Regions from separate parts of the Homo sapiens genome. Here regions 2, 3 and 4 are each linked to region 1. The links come from fine-mapping of genetic effects on gene expression. A gene starts in region 1. Each other region holds a variant in brackets. All regions are shown on one strand. Distances are between the middles of the regions. Region 1 holds the start of FLVCR1 (FLVCR choline and heme transporter 1). Region 2 has its middle 46 kb from the start of FLVCR1. Region 3 overlaps SPATA45 (spermatogenesis associated 45). Region 4 has its middle 14 kb from the start of BATF3.

What was found.
Region 2: its variant is fine-mapped to the expression of FLVCR1 in putamen (GTEx, PIP above 0.99). The same link has a PIP of 0.9 or more in caudate, cerebral cortex, nucleus accumbens and subcutaneous fat.
Region 3: its variant is fine-mapped to the expression of FLVCR1 in whole blood (INTERVAL, PIP above 0.99).
Region 4: its variant is fine-mapped to the expression of FLVCR1 in whole blood (TOPMed, PIP above 0.99).

Annotation. Positions count from the first base shown.
Region 1 is chr1:212,855,866-212,861,523 of GRCh38, reverse strand. FLVCR1 (FLVCR choline and heme transporter 1) reads right to left here and starts at 3,249. Exons shown (of 10, transcript NM_014053.4): 1 at 2,334-3,249. The coding sequence starts at 3,071. It overlaps FLVCR1-DT (FLVCR1 divergent transcript), which reads left to right and starts at 3,386. Exons shown (of 2, transcript NR_027286.1): 1 at 3,386-3,758; 2 at 4,606-4,920. RefSeq lists silencers at 2,799-3,008, 3,089-3,148.
Region 2 is chr1:212,901,419-212,907,076 of GRCh38, reverse strand. No RefSeq gene overlaps it. Among named protein-coding and RNA genes, the nearest start is that of FLVCR1, 46 kb to the right of the region's middle. The variant T/A (reference allele first, on the strand shown) is at 2,238.
Region 3 is chr1:212,828,171-212,833,828 of GRCh38, reverse strand. It overlaps SPATA45 (spermatogenesis associated 45), which reads left to right. Exons shown (of 3, transcript NM_001024601.3): 3 at 3,568-3,688. The coding sequence ends at 3,587. Among named protein-coding and RNA genes, the nearest start is that of SPATA45, 17 kb to the left of the region's middle. The variant C/T (reference allele first, on the strand shown) is at 2,796.
Region 4 is chr1:212,711,228-212,716,885 of GRCh38, reverse strand. No RefSeq gene overlaps it. Among named protein-coding and RNA genes, the nearest start is that of BATF3, 14 kb to the right of the region's middle. RefSeq lists an enhancer at 3,788-4,341. The variant C/G (reference allele first, on the strand shown) is at 3,285.

The sequences.
Region 1 (5,658 bases):
AATGAAAGGGACTTCATTAGTAATCATACCAGACAACAGGTGTACCACCTGGACTATCCCAAGCAAACTGGGACATATGATCATGGTAGCTAAGAGAGTACTTTGGGGGAGCACCTTATATAGAAATATTATTCAGCTATCAAAAAGAATGAAAAGAAATGGGGTTCAGAAAAAGTTCCTGGAGGAGCAAAGATCTGAATAAGAAATTGGAGTTAGTCAAGTGAAGAAATATTCCAAGCCAACAGGACATTACATACAAGGCCAGGAGGGAAAGGGCACGACCTTGTGAGAAACTATAAGTAGGCATAGTTCTGCACAGAGCAGAGAAAGCATATGTCTGTGGGGACAGGGGTTGTGCATACAGATAAAGTGGAAGGGCTGGCAGGAGGCAGATCTGGAGGGTCCCATATGTCACACTAGAGTGTTTGAATTTTATCCTAAGGACAATGGAAGCCACTGCAGGGGGTAAGGATGTGCCCGGAACAGATTTGCACATTGTAAAAGACCACGCTGGATGAATGCGAGAACAGAGGGAAGACAGCAAGGGCTACAGATAGGGAGGACAGTTAGCAAGCTCTAGGTGAGAGCTGTGGGTGGCCCAAACCAAGACAGTGGCATTAGAGATAAAGGGAAATGAGCAAGGAGAAAGCAATTTTGAGTGGTGTGTTCCCATGAGATATCCAAGTAGACTATCCAGCTGGCCAGTATCTGTATGAGTCTGAAGCTCCTTTATTTATTCAACATGGTTTTATGGAGAGTAATAAATGCTGGTGATACAGCTGTGTACATTCAGACCACATTCCTATTTTCATGAAACTTACAATCTAATGGTGGGGATAAGAGAAAAGTAATAGGTAAGTAACATATGAACATGTAAACAATAACATATGAGACAGGGATGAGTGCTATAAGGAGAATTAAAGTAAAATAATGTAAAGAGAGTGACTGGGCAACTCTAAATGGGATCAAGAAATGCTACTGAATATTTAAAAATGAATTTAAACTGAGAGATGTGTGACAAAGAAAATGTAATCATGGCCGGGCGTGGTGGTTCACACCTGTAATCCCAGCACTTCGGGAGGCAGAGGTGGGCAGAGAGCTTGAGCTCAGCAGTTCGAGACAAGCATGAGCAACATGGAGAAACCCCATTTCTACAAAAAAAAAAAAAAAAAACCACACACACAAAAAACTTTATAATAGCTTCTGTCCAAACCTGCAGATGCAACCAACTCAAGTATCAGTCATAAATTATTTTGGACAAACAACTATAGTTCAACCTACTCCATCTTCTGTACTTTTAGATAAGGGAAATGACTATAAAGCAATAAGCATGTAGATTCTCATGCCTTGGCCACCTGAGTAGCTGGAATTACAGGCATGCACCACACCATGCCCCACTAATTTTTGTGTATTTGGTTTTGCCATGTTGGCCAGGCTGGTCTCAGACTCCTGGCCTCAAGTGATCCGCCTGCCTCAGCCTCCCAAAGTGCTGAGATTACAGGCGTGAGCCACCACGCCCAGCCCAGAACTTTTGGTTAGCAGTCATTTATGTGTCCCTTATGTGCCAGGAACTGTGCTGACTGCTAATATATGAAATTAAAAGGGAGCTGTTCACAATGACCTCTCAAAATGGAAACAATCTTCCCAGAACCCAATACCTTCCTTTCACAAATACACTGGTGACAAAAATAATACCCCAAGTCTTGTTCGTTACTGCATTGACAAATTTTCCATGTTAGGCATACACAAGCCAATACAGTTAATTATTATTATTATTATTATGGTTACAGTTTATTATTATTATTTGAGACAGAGTCTCACTCTGTCACCCAAGCTGGAGTGCAAAGGTGCAATCTCCGCTCACTGCAACCTCCACCTCCCGGGTTCAAGAGATTCTCCTGCCTCAGCCTCCTGAGTTGCTGGGACTACAGATACCCGCAAGCAGGCCTGGCTAATTTCTGTATTTTTAACAGAGACGGGGTTTCCCCATGTTGCCCAGGCTGGTCTGGAACTCCTGACTTGAAGTGATCCACCCACCTCGGCCTCCCAAAGTGCTGGGATTACAGGTGTGTGCCACCGCGCCCGGCCCAGTTAATTATTTTATAGGTAATTTTCAAAGCAAGATGACAAGGTCGTTTGGAAAATTTTGTCCTTACAAAGAAATTTATAGCCCACTTCAATCCAAGACGGCCTCCTATTCAACGGCTTCATCTCCTCTTTTATAGACAAATACCTCCTGGGGCAGTTCATCCATACAGGCCATAGTTCTCACGGCCTATGACTTTTTCCGGTCTTTTAAGGATCTGACTTTCACCTACCACTCCAGTACTTACCTGATTGCCCAGCACGGCGGTGGCACAAGCTGTGGACACCTCTTTGGGCCCAAACCACACTGAGGCGATGCGGGAGGGCAAGCCCAGGATGAACACCTGGGCCACCGAGCACAAGCACTGGCCCAACATGGTGACCCAGAAGAGATGCTGCTGCACACTGCCGCACTTGATCCAGGCACCCAGGCAGTTGAGGCCGGAGCCCAGCAGGGCGGTGAGCCGCAGGCCTCTGGTGTCCAGCAGCCAGGTGGCCGGGAAGATGAGGGGCACGTAGGCCAGCATGTACACCATGGACAGCCAGTCGATGTGCAGCAAGGTGACACCGTAGAAGCCCTCGAAGACGTTGCTAATGATGCTGTACTGGATCCACTGAAAGGCGTTGACCAGCGAGTACAGGCTGAAGATCAGGAGCACCACGAAGCGCCGCGGGGAGAGCGCCGTAAGGGGCAGCGGGCTGCTCTCGGCCCCCGGGGTCTCAGCTCCCGCGCCCGCAGGCAGCAGCCGGGCCTGGGTCTCCTCTTCTGGGGCCAGTGGAGTCTGAGGCCCGCCCAGAACTCCCGAGGCGGCAGCGAGGCTGTCCCGGGGGGCCCCATTCACCGGGAAGGTGCCCGCTTTGGGCCCGTTCTGCAGCTCCACGCTCTCCTTCCCAACGGGCGCGCCCCTCGGCAACGGGAGGTATCCTTTCGCGAGCGGGTGTCCGGGCGCCACCGCCGCCCCCTCCTCATCGTCTGGCCGCGCCATATCCCAGGCTCCCCGGCGCCACCTCGCTCCCCCGCCCCACTCCCCGACTCCGCTCTCCCGGCCCACAGCCCGAGGTCCTCCTGGGGCCCCACCTCCAACCCCTCGGCCCACCGCTCCTTCCCCGGTGGCGCGCGCCGCGAACCGCAATCCGCGCTACCGCGTGAACAGATGAAGGTCTCCTCCCCCGCGCCGCGCGGCAGTCACCCCTTGTCTGGTCCCGCCCCTAGAGTCGCGCGTCCTGCATGACTACGGCCCTCCGGCCAATCAGCGTGCGCCTTTGTCCGGCGCGAGAGCCAGTCGGGGAGCTACCGGGCGAGAACTTCGGGAGGCGGGGGAGGAAAGCGGCCGGCGAGCGCTGGCTGACATTTTCCTGCCCGGAAGGATGCATGGCCCGGGGTCTCCTGCACCTGAGGGTGGGCGGGAGGCGGCCCCGCGGGTTGTGTTGCTGGAAAAAGGGGTCTCGATCCAGACCCCAAGAGAGGGTTCTTGGGTCTACTTCAGGGAAGAATTGGAGGCGAGTCACAGAGCGCAGTGAAGGAAGCAAGTTTATTGGAATCTACTCCGTTAGAGAGTGCAAGTCCTCAGACTGCAGGAGGAGGAACTCCCGTCCTTCGGTAGTGTCACTACTTAGAGGCAGCTGTGAGGAGCTGTGATTAATCGTGGAATGTGCTGATGTGCCCACTAAAGGTAGGGGCTGTTGGTGCACTAATGACCATTAATCCTTCAACCTAAGCCTGCGCATTGACGTTATCTCTGAGTAGAGGGCTGGGCCGGGCTCGGTGGCCACGTCTGTAATCCCAGCACTGTGGGAGGCCGGACAGGAGTCTCCCTTGAGCCCAGGAGTTCGAGACCAGCCTGGGCAACATACTGAGATGCCATCTATTTAAAAAAAAAAAAAAAAAAAAAAAAGCCAGTAGCCAGGCGTGGTGGTGCATGCCTGTAGTCCCAGCTACTCAGGAGGCTGAGGCAGGAGAACTACTTGAACCTGGGAGGCGGAGGTTGCAGTGAGCTGAGATCGCACCACACTGCCCTCCAGCCTAGCCTGGGCGACAAAGTGAGACCTTGTCTAAAAAAAAAAAAAAAACTCAGGACATCTGGACAATTCCGCAGACTTGGTGGGAGATGTCCTGTATGGCCATAAATATTGTGTAATTATAATTGTTGGTCAGCTTAGAATGCGGCTATTTTCAGACCTTTAGCATTAACCTTATAGGTGCCTTGTGAGTGCCTAGTTACTCACTTTAACATGCAGTCGCTCTAGCCATGTTTTATTAAACCAGATGCCTGGTAAGCAGTGGCTCCTCTAACAAGTGGGCAGCTTGGAACTGGGAACGAGAGAGCCACCGAAACAGAATGAGGGAGACAAAGAAGTGGGCATCACCCTTAACTCCACAAGGGCTTCCCAAGGGCGCTGTACCGTACGCAGGCCCAGGACGAACTTTATTTCTCGCCCCAGCATCGCTGTCCTTGTCGGTGAGACCCTGGCTTTAGGGCAGACAGGACCACGTTTCATAAGTTCATGCTGTCCCAGCAGAGGAATAACGCCAGAAAGTGTTCCAGTACAACCAGAGAAAGAGAGTCCATGAGAAATCTGCCCTTGTGAAGTTGGAATCCCCTCAACCTCACCCCGCTGACTTGAATGAAGCGACTGAGACGGGCTATGATGGAGCAGATCCGGTTGCTCGACCTTCTCCCTTGCACCAACACATGTAGTTAATAGTTACTGGACATGCATATTCAGTGGGTTCCAGGTACCAAACTTGTATTGAATGGTATGTGCCAGACACCGTCTTGAGATCTGGAGAATAAAAAAATAAAAAAATAAAAACGAGACATCCAGAGCACAGTAGCCTTGCGGTCTTCCTGGAACTAGAGAAAATTCAGCCCTTCTGCTCCTTGGGAAGCTATGTTTGGGAAAAAAAAAAAAAGAGAGAGAGAGAGACTCCAAAGAGTTTGTTATTAAATTTAAGTTCAAACTAGGTGTATATAGTACAAAAGTTCTTACCATGCATTTAATCTTAAAATGTGCTGATATCTAGAACCCTAAAACCCTGCACTTTTTTATTGCCTCTTACATTATTATTTTGGTCATGTATGAAATATATCAGGCATCTCTCGGTACAGGTGAAATGCTACATGTTCTAAACTAAGGAATAAGTGCATTATTATAATGTCTTCCTTGGCCAAACTGTATAAATCCCCCCCTCCGCCCGCCCCGGCCAACATCCCTTCCCTGCTTTTTTTTTTCTTTCTTTCCTAGTGCTTACCTTCACCTAAAATGTCCTATATTTTTACTTTTTTTTTCTGGTTATTTTCTTTCTTTCTTTTTTTTTTTGACAGTCTTGCTCTGTCACCCAGGCTGGAGTGCAGTGGCGCGATCTCGGCTCACTGCAACCTCCACCTCCCAGGTTCAAGCGATTCTTCTGCCTCAGCCTCCCGAGTAACTGGAACTACAGGCCCGCGCCATCATGCCTGGCTAATTTTTGTATTTTTCTTTAGTGGAGACAGGGTTTCACCATATTGGCCAGGCTGGTCTTGAACTCCTGACCTCGTGATCCGCCCGCCTCAGCCTCGCAAAGTGCTGGGA
Region 2 (5,658 bases), 46 kb before region 1:
AATCTAAATGTAAATTTTAGTGATTCTGAATGGGATCTGAGAAAGGTCTTAGATTTTAAAGTTCCTATTTCTTATAGGGTAGCCGGTAACAGATAAAATGCCATGTTATTATTTTATATTTTAAACAGTTTCATGGCTTTTGCCTCAAATATTTAGCTGTTTGTAAAACTAAATAATGCTGGAAACTTTATCCTGAAATATCATACTAATTATAATTTAAATGGCATGACAACAGATGGTAGTAGCAGCTTTTTATAACTCTTCGTTTACACAGAGGTAGTATCTTGCTTTGCAGCTACCAATTCTCTTCTCTTTGGTCTCATTAATAAAACCACCCTAAATCTTCTGCCTGTCTTTCCCTTAGGCTCCTTCTTTGTCTCCACTAACTCTTTATGTTCCACCTACCTCCTTTAATTAGAGGCCTTTGATCCTTGATCCTCCCTTACTCTTTATTCTCTCCATATTCTGGCATTGTGAATCATTGATCAATGTAGTGATAGCCAGTTTCTCCTTTCTAGAAGCAAGACCCTTTTCAGGGAATCCATAATGTCCAAACTCTTTTCATAATAATACAAAGAAGTTATATACCTTTTTCACTATGTTGACATTTGCAATGATGGTGCAAAAGTGGTGGCGGGCAAAATTGCTGTTCTACGCTAAAAGTTTAGTCCCACTTGTTTATGTTTGCTTTTGCTGTCTCTGTTTTTGGTGTCATATTAAAAAAAAATCATTGCTCATCAATGCCTATGTTTCCTCCTTACATTTTATGATTTCAGGTCTTATATTTAAGTCTTTGTTGTTGTTGTTGTTGTTATTGAGATAAGGTCTCATTCTGTCACTCAGGCTGGAGTGCAGTGGTGCAATCTCGGCTTACTGCAGCTTCAACCTCCTGGGCTCATGAGATTCTTCCAACTCAGCTTTCCTGAGTAGCTGAGACCACAGGCGTGTGCCACCATACCTGGCTAATTTTTAAATTTTTTTTGGTAGAGGCGAGGTCTTACTATGTTGCCCAAGCTGTCCTCAAACTCCTAACTCAAGTGATCCTTCCACCACGGCCTCCCAAAGTGCTGGGATTACAGGCATGAGCCACCACACCTGCCCTGTCTTTAATCCATTTGAGTTGATGTTTGTGTATGATGTAAGATAAGAATCCAATTTCATTTTTTTTTTTTTTTTGCATGTGGTTATCCAGGTTTCCCAACAGTATCTATTGAAGACTATCCCTTCCACATTGTGTATTCTTGTCACAGATTAATTGACAGTGTATGTATGAGTTTATTTCTGGGCTTTCTGTTCCATTGGCCTAGTTTGTTTTTATGAGAGTATCATGCCGTTTTGATTACAGTAACTTTGTAATATAATTTGAAATCAGGAAGTGTGATACAACTTTGATCTTTCTCAAGTTTGCTTTAGCTATTCAAGTTCTCTTGAGGTTCCACACAAATTTTAAGATTGTTCTATTTTTATGAAAAATGCGATTGGAATTTTGAGAGAAATTGTGTTTAATCTTAAGGTTGCTTTGGGTAGTTGGACATTTTGACAATATTGATTCTTCTGATCCATGTACTTGGGATATCTTCCCATTAATTTGTCTTCAATTTCTTGCATCAATGCATTATAGTTTTCATTGTACAGATTTTTCACCTCCTTGATTAAACTTATTTCTGAGTACTTTATTCTTTTTGATCTTATTGTAAATGAAATTTTTTGCTTAGTTTTTCAGATAGTTCATTAGTATATAGAAATGCAACTGTTTTCATATGTTGATTTTGTATCCAGCAACTTTCCTGAATTTATTTTTAAATGTTTTTTCATAGAATCTCTAGAGATTTTTATACATAAGATCATGTTATCTGCACACAATTTTAATTCTTCCTTTCAGGTCTGGATGCCTTTTATTTCTTTTTCTTATCTAATTACTCATGTTAGAACTTCCAGTCCTACTAAATAGAAGTGGTAAGAGTGGACCTCCTTGCCTTGTTCTGGATCTTAGAGGAAGAGATTTCAGCTTTTTCACCATTGAGTATAATGTTAGCTGTGGGCTTTTCATAAATGATCTTTATTGTGTTGAGGTTAAGCTCCTTCTATGTCTTTTTTTTTTTTTGAGGTTTTATCATGAAAGGGTGTTGAATTTTGTCAAATACTTTTTCTGCATCTATTGAGGTGACTATATAATTTTTACCCTTATAGTATATCACATTTATTGAATTGTATATGTTGAACCATCCTTATATCCC[T/A]GGGATAAATCCCATTTGATCATAGTGTATGATCCTTTTAATGTGTTGTTAAATTTGGTTTGCTAGTATTTTGTGGAGGATCAGGGATACTGGCCTGTAATTTTATTTTCTATAATGTCCTTGACTGGTTTTGGTATCAGGGTAATGCTGACAATTAGTTTGGAAGTGTTCGTCCTCTGAAATTTTATGGAACACTTTAAGAAGGACTAGTATTATTTTCTTTGAATGTGTGGTAGAATTCACCAGTGAAGCCACTGGGACTTTGGTTTTTCTTCTACGGACAATTTTTGATTACTGATACAATCTACTTACTTGTTATTGGTATACTCAGATTTTCTATCTCTTCATGACTCAGTCTTGGTAGGTTGTATGTTTATAGAAATTTATCAATTTCTAGGTTATCCAGTTTGTTGAAGTACAATTGTTCATAATAGTCTCATGATTCTTTGTATTTCTGTGGTATCAGTTGTAATATCTCCTCTTTCATTTACAATTTCATTTGAGACTTCTCTTTTTCTTACTCTAAGGTTCATCAATTTTGTTTTTCTTTTCAAAAAATACAACTCCTAGTTTCACTGATCTTTTCTATTATTTTTCTAGTCTATATTTCATTTATTTCTGTTCTCATCTTTGTCATTTACTTCCTTCTACTAATTTTGGGCTTAATTTGTTCTTCTTTGTCTAGTTCCTTCAGGTGTAAAGTTAGGTGATTTATTTAAGATATTTCTTCATGTGGCCATTTATTGTTATAATTTCCCTCCTTGAACTGTTTTTGCTGCATTCCATCAGTTTTGATATGGTAATGGAAATAGAAAGTATTTCTATTTTCATTTGTCCCAAAATATTTTTTGATTTCCTGTTTGATTTCTTCGACTCACTAGTTGTTCAGAATCTGTTGTTTAATTTCTACATATTTTTGAATTTTCCAGTTTTCTTTCTATTGGTGGGTAATTTCATATCATTGTGAAATAATATGTAATTGTGTAATTTCCTATCATTGTAAGCATCAGAGAAGTTGCTTAATATGATATTATGTCTTAAGGAATATATGATTATTTCAATTGTATTTCTTATTTAAATGTATTTTAAAGACATTCTTTTGGGCCTAACATATGACCCATCCTGGAGAATGTTCCATGTGTACTTGAGGAAAATGTGTACTCTGTTGCTATTGGATGGAATATTCAATATATGTCCATTAAGTCCATGTGGTCTAAGGTGTAATTCAAATCCAATGTTTCCTTATTGATTTTGGCTGGATGTTCTATCAATTGTTGCAAGTGGGGTACTGAAATCCCCTATTAATTCTACTGCTATTTCTCCTTTCAGATCTGTTAATATTTGCTTTGCATAATTTTAGGTAGTCCACTGTTGGCACACACACACACATGCACACACAACTTGTTGGATCCTCTTAAATAATTGACCCCATTAAGGCCAGGCACAGTGGCTCATGTCTGTAATCCCAGCACTTTGGGAGGCCAAGGTGGGCGGATCATGAGGTCAGGAGATCGAGACCATCCTGGCCAATGTGGTGAAACCCCGTCTCTACTAAAATACAAAAAATTAGCTGGCCATGGTGGTGCAGGCCTATAGTACTGGCTACTTGGGAGGCTGAGGCAGGGGGAATTGCTTGAACCTGGGAGGCGGAGGTTGCAGTGAGCCGAGATCACACCACTGCACTCCAGCCTGGCGACAGAGCGAGACTCTGTCTCAAAAAAAAAAAAAAAAAAAATTGACTCCATTATCATTATATAATAGTCTTCTTTGTCCCTTGTTAAAGTTTTTTAGGTGTTTTTTTTGTTTGTTTTTTGACAAGAGTCTCACTCTGTTGGCCAGGCTGGAGTGCAGTTGCACGATCTCAGCTCACTGCAACCTCTGTTTCCCAGGCTCAAGCGATTCTCCTGCCTCAGCCTCCTGAGTAACTGGGATTACAGGCGTCTGCCACCACGCCCAGCTAATTTTTGTATTTTTAGTAGAGATGGGGTTTCACCATATTGGTCAGGCTGGTCTCGAACTCCTGACCTCAGGTAACCCACCTGCCTTGGCCTCCCAAAGTGCTGGGATTACAGGCGTGAGCCACCATGCCTGGCCAAAGTTTTTACTTAAAGTCCATTTTGTCTGATTTAAATATAGCTACCCTGGCCAGGTGCAGTGGCTCACAACTGTAATCCCAACATTTGGGAGGCCAAGGCAGGCAGATCACCTGAGGTCAGGCATTCAGGACCAGCCTGGCCAACACAGTGAAACTCCATTTCCTAAAAATACAAAAATTAGATGGGTGTGGTGGTGCACACCTGTAATCCCCACTACTTGGGAGGATGAAGCATGAGAATCACAAGAACCCAGGAGGTGGAGGTTGCAGTGAGCTGAGATCATGCCACTACACTCCAGCCTGGGTGGAGTGAGACTCTGTCTCAAAAATAAATAAATAAATAAAGCTACCCTGCTCTATTTCTGTTTCCATTTGTATGGATTCTCTCTTTCCATCCCTTTACGGCCTATGTATATCTTTAAAGCTAAAGTGACTCTGGTAAGCAGCATACAGTTTGGTTTTTAAATCCATTTAGCCAATCTATGTCTATGATTGGATAATTTAACCCATTTACATTTAAAGTAATTATTGACAGGTAAGAACTTACAGGCATTTTGTTGTTTTCTGGCGGTTTTAAAGATCCTTTGTCCTTTTCTTCCTCTCTTGCTGTCTTTTGTGATTAGATGATTTTCCTTAGTAGTATACTTAGATCCCTTTCTCTTTATCTGTGTGTGTCTACTACGGGTTTCTGCTTTGTGGTTAAAACAGGCTTACATAAAACATCTTATTGTCTATTTTAAGCTGATAGCAACTTAACTTTGTTCACACACAAAAACTCTACACTTTTATACGCCATTTTATGCTTTTGCTGTCACAATATTCATCCTTTTATATTGTGTATCAATTAATGAATTACCAAAGCTAGTTATTTTTAATATTTTTATTTTAGCCTATACACGAGTTAAAATGATTTACACATAACCACTGCAGTATTAGAATATTCTGATTTTGACTATATACGTATCTTTACCAGTGAGTTTTATACCTTTTTATGTTTTCATATTAGCATTAAAATTAGCATACTTTTGTTTCAGCTTGAAGAACTCCACTTAGCATTTCTCGCAAGGTAGGTCTGGTGGTGATTTAACTCCCTCAGTTTTTATTTGTCTGGGAAAGTTAATCTTTCCTTTTCTGAAGGACAGATTTATCAGGTAAAGTATTCTTGGTTAGCAGTTTATTTTTCTTTTTTAAATTTCAGCATTTTGAATATATCATCCTACTCTTCTTGGCCTGCAAGGTTTCTGCTGAGAAATCTGATAGCCTATGGGGTCTCCCTTGTATGTGATAAGCTTCTTTTTCCTTGTGCTGCTTTAAAAATTCTCTTTG
Region 3 (5,658 bases), 28 kb after region 1:
TTGAAGGAAATTTAAAATTCCCTTTAGTGAACACACAAATGATAAGAAAGCAAAACAGCCTTATTGCTGATAGGGAGAAAGTTTCAGTGATCTGGACAGATGAACCCAGCCACAACATTTCCTTAAGTCAAAGCCTAACCCAGAGCAAGGCCCCAACTCTCTTCAATTCTGTGAAAGCTGAGTCTCTCTGTCACCCAGGCTGAAGTGCAATGACGTGATCTCAGCTCACTGCAACCTCTGCCCCCAGGTTCAAGTGCTTCAGCCTCCCAAGTAGCTGGGATTGCCTGCCACCACGCCTGGCTAATTTTTTTTTTTTTTTTTTTTTGTATTTTAGTAGAGATGGGGTTTCGTCATGTTGGCCAGACTGGTTTCAAACTCCTGGCTTCAAGTGATCCACCCATCTCGGCCTCCCAAAGTGCTGGGATTATAGGCTTGAGCCACTGAGCCCGGCCAGGAGGCCATTATTCTAAGTGAAGTGACTCAGGAATGGAAAACCAAATATTGTCTGTTCTCACTTATAAGTGGGAGCTAAGCTATGAGGATGCAAAGGCATAGGAATTATATAATGGACTTTAGGAACCCCAAGGGAAAGAAAGGTAAAAGAGGGGCAAGGAATAAAAGACTATATGCTCGGTTGATGGGTGCACCAAAATCTCAGAAATCACCGCTGAAGAACTTACCCATGTAACCAAAACCTACCTTTACCCCAAAAACTACTGAAATTAAAAATAAACAAAAGAAACCACCCTATCTAAGCAGCACTCCTCAACACTCTATAATCCCTTACCCAGCTTTCTTTTTTACCACAGTGTTTATCACTCCCTAATGAAGGCTAGGCTCCTTGAAGGCAGGGATGGTATCTGCTTTTTTCACCACTTTATCTTCAGTCCCTAGAACAGTGTCTGGCACAAATTAGGAACTCAGGAAACGTTTCCTGGCTGATTGAATAAATGTTGGGACATGGAATATACTTTCCCAGAAGTAGTGGTAGAACTTACCTCATTCCTCTCGAGACCAATAGCTATGTCCTTGGGCAATGGCTCACAAACCTAAGAGTTTCTCACAGCAACCTTAGTTGGTTGCTGTGGAATAATCTTTAGAAATGCAGGAGGGTAATAATACAGTAATTTTGCTGGACATATTCAATACGAATTGGAAGGCACTGTACTCCTTTCCTTTGCATACCTGTGCAAGAGGAAGAAACACTCATTTACTCTTTATTCATTCAACGAATATATATCAGTGCTTACTTGATGTCAGGCACTCTTCTACGTGCTTGTCAATACAGTGATGAATAAAATCTTGCCTCAAAAAGCTTAGGTTTTGGTGTGCTGGCTCATGCCTGTAATCCTAGCACTTTGGTAGGCTGAGGCAGGAGGATCCCTTGAGCCCAGGAGTTTGAGAGTAGCCTGGGCAACATAGAGAGACCTCTTCTCTATTTCTAAAAAAAAAAAAAAAAAAAAAAAAAAGCTTAGATTTCACTGGGTAGAGAGCCAGATAAACAAGTTAAAAAATAGTACATTTCAGCCGGGCACAGTGGCTCACGCCTGTAATCCCAGCATTTTGGGAGGCCGAGGCGAGTGGATCACCTGAGGTCAGGAGTTCGAGACCAGCCTGACCAACATGGTGAAACCCCACAAAAATTAGCTGGGCATGGTGGTGCATGCCTGTAATCCTAGCTACTCTGGAGGCTGAGGCAGAAGAATCACTGGAATCCGGGAGGAGGAGGTTGCAGTGAGCAGAGATCGCGCCACTGCACTACAGCCTGGGCAACAAGAGCGAAACTCCGTCTCAAAAAAAAAAAAAAAAAAAAGGAAGTAAATGTCCGATCAGATAGTGATAAATGGGTAAGAGCTATGGGGAAACAGAAAACAGCAGGGTGGGGGATAGGAAGTGTTGGATGGAGGGTGTATTGCTGCCCATATAACTATATGGGGATTACTATCCAGGGCATGAGGGATGACCCAGGACTCCTGGGTTCCTTGAGGAGTCCAGTGTAAACAGGGATAAGGGACAGAATGAGATTAGTCCTGATGGTCGAACCTAGCGGTGGTCTAACCTGGTGGGGAGGCCTGTGTGTTGAGGGGAAGTAATGTTACAGATTTTGCATAGAGTATTTGGAGTTCTGGGTGATCCTCTTTGCTTCTATTAATAGTGACGTGAAGACTAGGAAAGAAGTTCTCTTAGTCCGAGATTTCCAGGCCCTCTTTTCAATCTTCCACTTGGAGATGTGGAGCCCAAAAGGGGGGCAGTTTATTTAAATATATAGAATTAAAAACACCTGGGTTCAAGTTTTGCCTCTGTCATTGACTAGTATCATGCTTTTAGTAATTTGAGGTTTTTTTTTTTTTTTTTAGAGGCAGAGTCTTGCTCTGTCACTGGGGCTGGAGCGCAGTGGTGTGATCATAGCTCACTGTATCCTCAACCTCCTGGGCTCGAGCGATCCTCCTACCTCTCAGCCTCCCGAGTAGCTGGGACTATAGGCATGTGCCACCATGCTTGGCTAACTTTTGTATTTTTTTAATAGAGTCTGGATTTTGCCATGTTGCCCAGGTTGGTCTCAAATTCTTGACCTCAAGCAATCTGCCTGCCTCAGCCTCCCAAAGCGCTGGGATTACAGGCGTGAGCCACCGTGCCCAACCATTTGGTGTTTCTTTCTTTCTTTTTTTTTTTTTAATTTATTGAGACGGAGTCTCACTCTGTCACTTTGTCACAGGCTGTAGTGCAGTGGCTCGATCTTGGCTCACTGCAACCTCTGCTGCCCGGGGTTCAAGCGATTCTCCTGCCTCAGCCTC[C/T]AGAGTAGCTGGGATTACAGGTGTGCACCACCACACCCAGCTAATTTTTTTTGAGATTTTTTCTTGCTCTGTCACCAGGCTGGAATGCAGTGTTGCGATCTCGGCTCACTGCAACCTCCACCTCCCGGGTTCAACTGATTTCTCCTGCCTCAGCCTCCTGAGTAGCTAGGACTACAGGCGCATCCCACCACACCCAGCTAATTTTTGTCTTTTTAGTAGAGATGGGGGTTTCAACATGTTGGCCAGGATGGTCTCCATCTCTTGACCTCGTGATCCGCCCACCTCAGTCTCTCAAAGTGCTGGGATTACAGGCGTGAGCCACAGCGCCTGGCCGCCATTTGGTGTTTCTTTTTTTTTTTTTGGAGTCGGAGTCTTGCTCTTTCGCCCAGGCTGGAGTGCAGTGGTGTGATCTCGGCTCACTGCACGTTCCGCCTCCTGGGTTCAACCGATTCTCTTGTCTCAGCCTCCTGAGTAGCTGGGACTACAGGAGCGCGCCACGACGCCCGGCTAATTTTTGTATTTTTTTAGTAGAGATGGGGTTTCACCATCTTGGCCAGGATGGTCTCGATCTCCTGACCTCGTGATCCGCCCACCTCGGCTTCCCAAAGTGCTGGGATTACAGGTGTGAGCCACCGCACCCGGCCCATTTGGTGTTTCTAAACCTTAGTTCCTGTATCTGAAAAACAATACTCTGCCCTCCAGGGTTATTTTAAAAACCATGAAATGTGTTATAAGTTATATAACAAATACTTTTTATTTTTTATTTTTTCAGATAATGCCATATTTGGATAAAGTGCATCTCCAGAGACACACGGAAATACATTCTCTTTGATTCTTCTTCAGTGTGTCTAAATTATTTACAAATTATTAATTATAAACAAAGCTAAACAAAAGTATTCACTAGATCCCTCAAAAAACATTAAGTCACATAAAACATATCTTTATTCATTCCATTCTATCATTTAAACTTAGATGATTTGAAGAGAGGATTTGAGTTTTTTAGTTACTTTCAAACATGAATACCTAAGAGTTTAGTTTACAGTGATCCCTTTTTTTTTTTTTTTTTTTTGAGACAGAATCTTGCTCTGTTCCCCGGGCTGGAATGCAGTGGCATGATCTCAGCTCACTGCAATCTCCACCTCCTGGGTTTAAGCTATTCTCCTGTCTCAGCCTCCTGAGAAGCTGGGACTACAGGCGCACGCCACCACACCCAGCTAATTTTTGTATTTTTAGTAGAGATGACATTTCACCATGTTGGTCAGGCTGGTCTTGAACTCCTGACCTCAGGTGATCCACTCGCCTTGGCATCCCAGAGTGCTGGGATTACAGGTGTGAGCCACCATGCCCAGGCAATCTTCTCCTTAGTAATCTAAAATGTTTAAATAATAGTTTATATTTGTTTCTATAACTCAATGGAATATATTGACCAACCCCACTGATCAGGTTGAAGGCTAAAAAGTTAACACTTGCTTATAAATGATAGATTAACTTCCTCTGTTAAAGTTATGGTTTTGATTATTTGAATAAGGAGATATTTGAGAGGCTAATATAAGGTGCCTGTAGACAGGGCTTTCTGTTACATTACGTTGTCCATCCCCACAGTGGTGATGGTTAGAATTATCTCATGGCCACATCCTATTTGGCTACTATCACCTCCGTTTCATTGCTTCTTGGATCACAGTCTCTTCAAATCACTTTTTTTTTTTTAGACGGAGTCTTGGTCTGTTGCCCAGGCTGGGGTGCAGCAGTGTGATTTGGCTCACTGCAACATCTGCTTTCCAGGTTCAAGCAATTCTCATCTCAGCCTCCTGAGTAGCTGGGACTACAGGTGTGTGCCACTATGCCAGGTTAATTTTTGTATTTTTAGTAGAGACAGGGTTTCACCATGTTGCCCAGGCTGGTCTCGAACTCCTGACCTCAGGTGATCTGCCCGCCTCAGCCCCACAAAGTGCTGGGATTACAGGCATGAGCCTCTTCAGATCTTAACTTGGCTTATGTTCCTTTGTGTGGTTAAGAACCTAGTCCATATGCCAAGCAGAGCACTGCCTGGCCTGGAACCCAGAGCTTCTTGGCATTTGTATTTATTTCAATAAGACATTCACTTTTTATTTGGTTGCCCTCTACTTCCACAGGAAGCTCAGATTCATAGAGAGCCAAAGCATTCTGATATTAGAAGGGATATGGATAAGCCAGCTGGCTTAAAACCCTATGTCAGTCAGGACTATATAGTAGGGCACAGTGTGGATAAGACTCATCAACCATGAGAAAATGTTAAAAATAATAAAAACAAACGACACAGAACTACAGCTAATTTTTCACTTCCCAAAAGGCAAATACCTAGCCAGGCAGTGGTGGCAGATACCTATAGTCCCAGCTACTCAGGAGGCTGGAGTGAGAGATCACTTGAGTCCAGGAGTTCAAGGCTGTAGTGTGCCAGGATCATGGCTGTGAATAGCCACTGCCCTCCACCCTGTGCAACATGGTGAAAGTCTGCCTTTTTTTTTTTTGACACAGGGTCTCATTCTGTCACCCAGGCTTGAGTGCAGTGGCATGATCATGGCTCACTGCAGCTGGACTTCCCGGTCTCAGATGATTCTCCCACCTCAGCCTCCTGAGTAGCTGGGATGACAAGTGTATGCCTGGCTAATTTTTGTATTTTTAGTAGAGATGGGGTTTCGCCATGTTGCTGGTCGTGAACTCCTGGCCTCAAGCAATCCGCCCTCCTCAGCCTCCCAAAGTGCTGGGATTACAGGCATGAGCCACTTCATCCGGCCTGTTTTTGTTTGTTTGTTTTAAAGCAAATACCTAGTGTTAATAACTAAAGGATTATCCTGGCACAGCTGTCATGGGCACCTGCAGAAGA
Region 4 (5,658 bases), 140 kb after region 1:
CATTGTACTCCAGCCTGGGCAACAAGAGCGAAACTCTGTCTCAAAACAAAAAAGAAAAAAAATTTATAACTAAGCAGAGTGTATTCCAGGAATGGAAGTCTGGTTAAATTTTTGAAAATCAATGTAATCTACCATATTAATAGTCTAGAGAGGAAAAATCACATGATCATATCAATTGATACAGAAAAAGCATTTGAAAACAAAATCAACAATGATTCATGATAAAAATTCCCAGAAAAAGTAGGAATGGAGGGGAACTTCCTCAATTTGATAAAGGACAGCTACAAAAACCCCACAGCTAGTATTATTATACTTAATGATAACAGATGGAATGCTTTCTCCTCTAAGATCTGGAACGAGGCAAAAATGTCCACTCTCAGAAGTTTATTCAACATAGTGCTGGAAATTCTAGTTGGTGAAATAAGGAAAGAAAATAAAAGAAAAACTGTATAGATCAGAAAGGAAGAAATGAAACTGTCCTATTTGCAGATGACATGATTGTCTACACAGAAAATCCCAAGGAATGCACCAAAAACTCCTAGAACTTACAAATGAGTTTAGCAAGGTCACAGGATATAAGATACACCTACAAAAATCAGTTGTATCTCTCTATACTAGCAATGAACATGTGGACACATAAATAAAAATACAATACCATTTGCAATCACTCAACAAAAAGTGGTTGAGTGTAAACCTAACAAAACATGTATAGGACTTATTTGCTGAAAGCTACAAAACATTGATGAAGGATGTCAAACATATAAATAAAGAAGAGACACAACATGTCCATGGATGGAAGACTCAATCTGGCCAATTCGCTCCAGATTTATACACATATTTAATGTAATTTCTATCAAAATCCCAGTAAGTAAGTAAAATCCCAAAATACATATACACAAGATTATTTTAAAATGTATATGGAAAGGCAAAGGAATTAGAATAGCTAAACCAATCTTGAAAAAGAAGAAAGTAGAGAGACTCAGTCTATCCAATTTCAAGACTTATTATATAGCTATAGTGAAGACTGTGGGATATTGGCAGAGAGGTAGACACACAGATCAAGACCACACAGAATAGAGAACCCAGAAGTAGACTCACACAAATATGGCCAGCTGAGTTCTGTCAATGGTGCAAAAGCAATTCAAGGAGGAAAGATAAGTCTTTTCAACAAATGGTACTGGAACAATTGAGCATCCATGGGTAAAAGAAACAAACAACCAGCCAGGTTTGGTGGCTCATGCCTGTAATCCCAGCACCTTGGGAGACTGAGGCAGTAGATCCCTTGAGGCTAGGAGTTCAAGACCAGCCTGGCCAAAATGGCAAAACCCCGTCTCTACTAAAAAAACAAAAATTAGCCATGTGTGGTGGTGCATGCCTGTAATCCCAGCTATGTGGGAGGCTGAGGCATGAGAATTGCTTGAACCCGAGAGGCGGAGGTTGCAGTTTGAGCCTAAATCGGACCACTGCACTCCAGCCTGGGCAACAGAGTGAGACCCTGTCTCAAAAAAAAAAAAAAAAAAAAAGTAAGGAACATCCACCTAAGTCTCACGCTTTATGGAAAAATTAACATGGGTCACACACTTAAATATCAAATATATAACTGAAGCATTTAGAAAAACTAGGAGAAAATCTTCAGGATCTAGGGCTAAGCAAAGAGTTCTTAAACTTGACACCAAAAGCATCATTCATTTTTAAAAATGGATAAATTGGATTCGTTAAAATTAAAGATTTTGCCTTTTGAAAGATGTTGTTAAAAGGATGAAAAGACAAGCTATAAAGTGGGAGAAAATATTTGCAAACCGTGTATCTGACAAAAGATTAGTATCTTGAATATATAAATAACTCTTGGCTAGGCATGGTGGCTCATGCCTGTAATCCCAACACTTTGGGAGGCCAAGGCAGGAGGATTATTTGAACCCAGGAGTTCAAGACTGGGCAACATAAAGAGACTGTATCTCTACAAAAAGTAAAAAACAAAACAAAACAAAACAAAATTAGCCAGGAGTGGTGGCACACAGCTATAGTCCTTGCTACTTGGGAAGCCGAGGTGGGAGGATCACATAAGCCCAGGAGATTGAGGCTACAGCAAGCCGTGATTGCACCACTGCAATCCAGCCTGGGCAAAAGAATGAGACTTTGAAAAAAAACAAAAAAGCCTCTCAGAACTCTGAACTGCAAAACAGCAAGCAACATAATTATAAAATGCACAAAAGACATAAACATTTCATGAAACGGCATATATGGATGACAAATAAACACCTGAAAAGATGTTCAACATTAATAGTCAATAGGAAAATGCAATTTAGAACCATAATAAGATATCATTACACACCTATCAGAATGAATAAAATAAAAAATCATGACAATATCAAATGCTGGAGAGCATGCAGGGAAATTGTATCACTCACATATTGCTGGTGGGAATTAAAAATATACCTCCACTCTGGAAAACACATTGGCAGTTTCTTAGAAAACTAAATGTTCAACTACCAAGTGTCCCAGCAATTGCACTCTTGGGCATTTATCCCAAAGAAATGAAGACTTATGTTTACACAAAACTCTGTACCCAATTTTTTTTTGAGACAGAGTCTCACCGTGTTGCCCAGGCTGAAGTGCAGTGGTATGATCATGGCTCACTGAAACCTCCACCTCCTAGGATCAAGCAATCCTTCTGCCTCAGCCTCCTGAGTAGCTGGGTCTACAGACATGCACCACCGTGCGTGGCTAATTTATCTATTTATTTATTAGAGACAAGGTCTCACTATATTGCCCAGGCTGGTCTAGAGCTCCTGAGCTGATGAAATCTTCCTGCCTTGGCCTCCCAGAGTGCTGGCACTTACAAGCATGAGCCACCATGCCCAGATACACAAATGTTTATAGCAGTTTTATTTGTAATAGCCAAGAACTAGAAAACAGCCCAGATGTCCTTGACAAGGTTAAACACACTGTGGTACATCCCTGCCGTATATGGAATACTACTCAGCAACAAAAAAGGAGCAAACTATTGATACAGGCAACAACTTCCATGAAATCCTCAGAGAATTGTGAAGAAAAGCCAATCTCAAAAGGTTATGTGCTGTAGGATTACATTTATATAATGTTCTTGAAATGACCAAATTACAGAAATGGAGAACAGATTTGTGGTCACCAGGGGTAAAGGAGCGGGTGGGCAAAGCATGAGCAAGAAGTGGTTGCGACTAAGAAAGGGCAACAGGAGAGATCCTCGTGGTGATGGAAACGTTTTGTGTCTTGGCTGTATCAATGTAAATATCCTTTCTGATTGT[C/G]ATATCATACAGAACATAGGTTTGCAAGATTTTACCATTGGGGGAAACTGAGTATAGGGCACATGGGATTTCACTGCAAGAGAGTCTACAAATATGTCAAAATAAAAAAGTTTAATTTTTAAAATGTGACAAAACTATAAACACAAAATTTAGGATAGACAGATGGGGGAGAAAGGGGCTGGAATAGTGAAGAGAACAGAGGTAAATAAAAGGGATTGTCAGTGTTCTGGTTCTTGGATTAGGTGATGAGTTTAGAGATGTCTGTTATATTATTAACAAACAAATGAGTAATAAATAAACACAAGAAGTATATTCATGAAACAACAATGTCAGAGTAGCAGGAACCAAGGATAAAGGTTAATCCAATTTTGCCTACGTGAGGTCTATTGGAGGGAAATAACAAACTGGCTCTGCTTTTTTGAAAAGAAGACTGAGATGCTAATTTTTTTTTTTTTCCTGAGACAGTCTCTGTTGCCCAGGCTGGAGTGCAGTGGCATGATCATTTCCTCCAACTCCTGGGCTCAAGCAATCTCCTGCCTCAGCCTCCCAAGTAGCTGAGATTACAGGTGTGTGCCATTTTTCATAGAGATGGGGTCTCACCATGTTGCACGGCTGATCACAAACCACTGGGCTCAAGCAATCCTCCTGCCTGAGCCCCTAAAAGTGCTGGGATTACAAGCGTGAACCACTGGCCTAAGGCTCTTTCTGCCCTAAACTATCAAAGAGCATGGGCTATTGTTAAGAAAGAAAAGAGATTTCTTGAAACAGCCCCAGGCATCCACTTTGAGTGTTAGGGGAACTACCAAAGTTGTTAGTGTCTTTCTAAGGAAATCCACTGCTGTCAGTAGAAGTCATTTGTGGTTTATTCATTCAGCAGATGTGTGACCAGGATTGTGAGCACAGCTCTGTGCCAGGCACAAGAAGTTGGAAATGGATCCAAGAAAATGCAAATCAGTTGTAGGTGGTAGTAGGTCCTACAGGAAATGAGTGAAATTATTTTTTTAAGTACGTCACAAATGGCACATATCTTATTCATGGTTTAAAACAGGATAATGAGCAATCTCTTCAGATACTACACTACTAGAATTCCTATGGTGTGGCATCATTTAGGGCTTCAGTAGAAACCAGCATTACATGATTTTAGCAAAAACACATTTTTGCTAGGCGCCTCTCCCTTAGAAACAAAATTGGGGAAAATAAGAAAAAATAAGTTATTGTTGGTTGTGGTGGCTCACGCCTGTAATCTCAGCACTTTGGGAGGCCAAGGTGGGTGGATCTCTTGAGGCCAGGAGTTAGAGACCAGCCTGGCCAACATGGCAAAACCCCGTCTCTACCAAAAATACAAAAATTAGCCGGGAGTGGTGGCGCACCCCTGTAATCCCAGCTACTCACGAGGCTGAGGTACAAGAATCGATTGAACCTGGGAGGCGGAGGCTGCAGTGAGCAAAGATCCCACCACTGCACTCTAGCCTGGGCAACAGAGCAAGACTCTGTCTCAAAAATAATGGTAATAATACTTTCTTAATTTTTGAATGAAGTATGCCACCATGATGCACGTAGAAGTCATTAAACATTCTCATGTGTACTTTGATAGTATGTGCTGGACCTCTTTTTGGGGTAACTCTTCTATCTAATCCAAATGTCACTTGCTGCAACATGACTATTTATTCATTATTGACCAATTAAAATTGTATTAAGTGCATGCTCTGCCTGAGTTTGAATCCCAGCCCAGTCACTTCTCTGGGTAACGTGGGCAAGTTTCTTCAATTGTCTGCGCTTCAATGCATCATTTCTAGTGCTGGTTATTACTACAGCTAGCACTGAGTTGGGAGGGGCCAGCATAATGAAGACATTGCCTTTGTCCTCATATGGTTTGTAATCTAGGAGGAGGAGACAGATTTGTAAATGAGGAGTATGTATATACATATTATAAAATCTGGAAGGATACACACAAAATTAATGACCAGAATTGAAAGTGATGATCATAGCTGGGCACGATGGCTCACCCCTGTAATCCCAGCACTTTGGGAGGCCGAGGCAGGCGGATCCCTTGAGACTAGGAGTTCGAGACCAGCCTGGCCAACATGGTGAAACCCTGTATCTACTAAAAATACAAAAATTTAGCCAGGTGTGGTGGCGGGCGCCTGTAGTCCCAGCTACTCAGGAGTCTGAGGCACAAGAATCGCTTGAACCCGGGAGGCAGAGGTTGCAGTGAGCTGAGATTATACCACTACACTCCAGCCTGGGCAACAGAAGGAGGCTCCATCTCAGGAAAGAAAAAAAAAGTGCTGATCACTTTCAATTTATCTGTAATGGTTAAATTCCATTTTATTCTGGGAATGCATTCATATATTTCTTTTAAAAAATGTTTTTC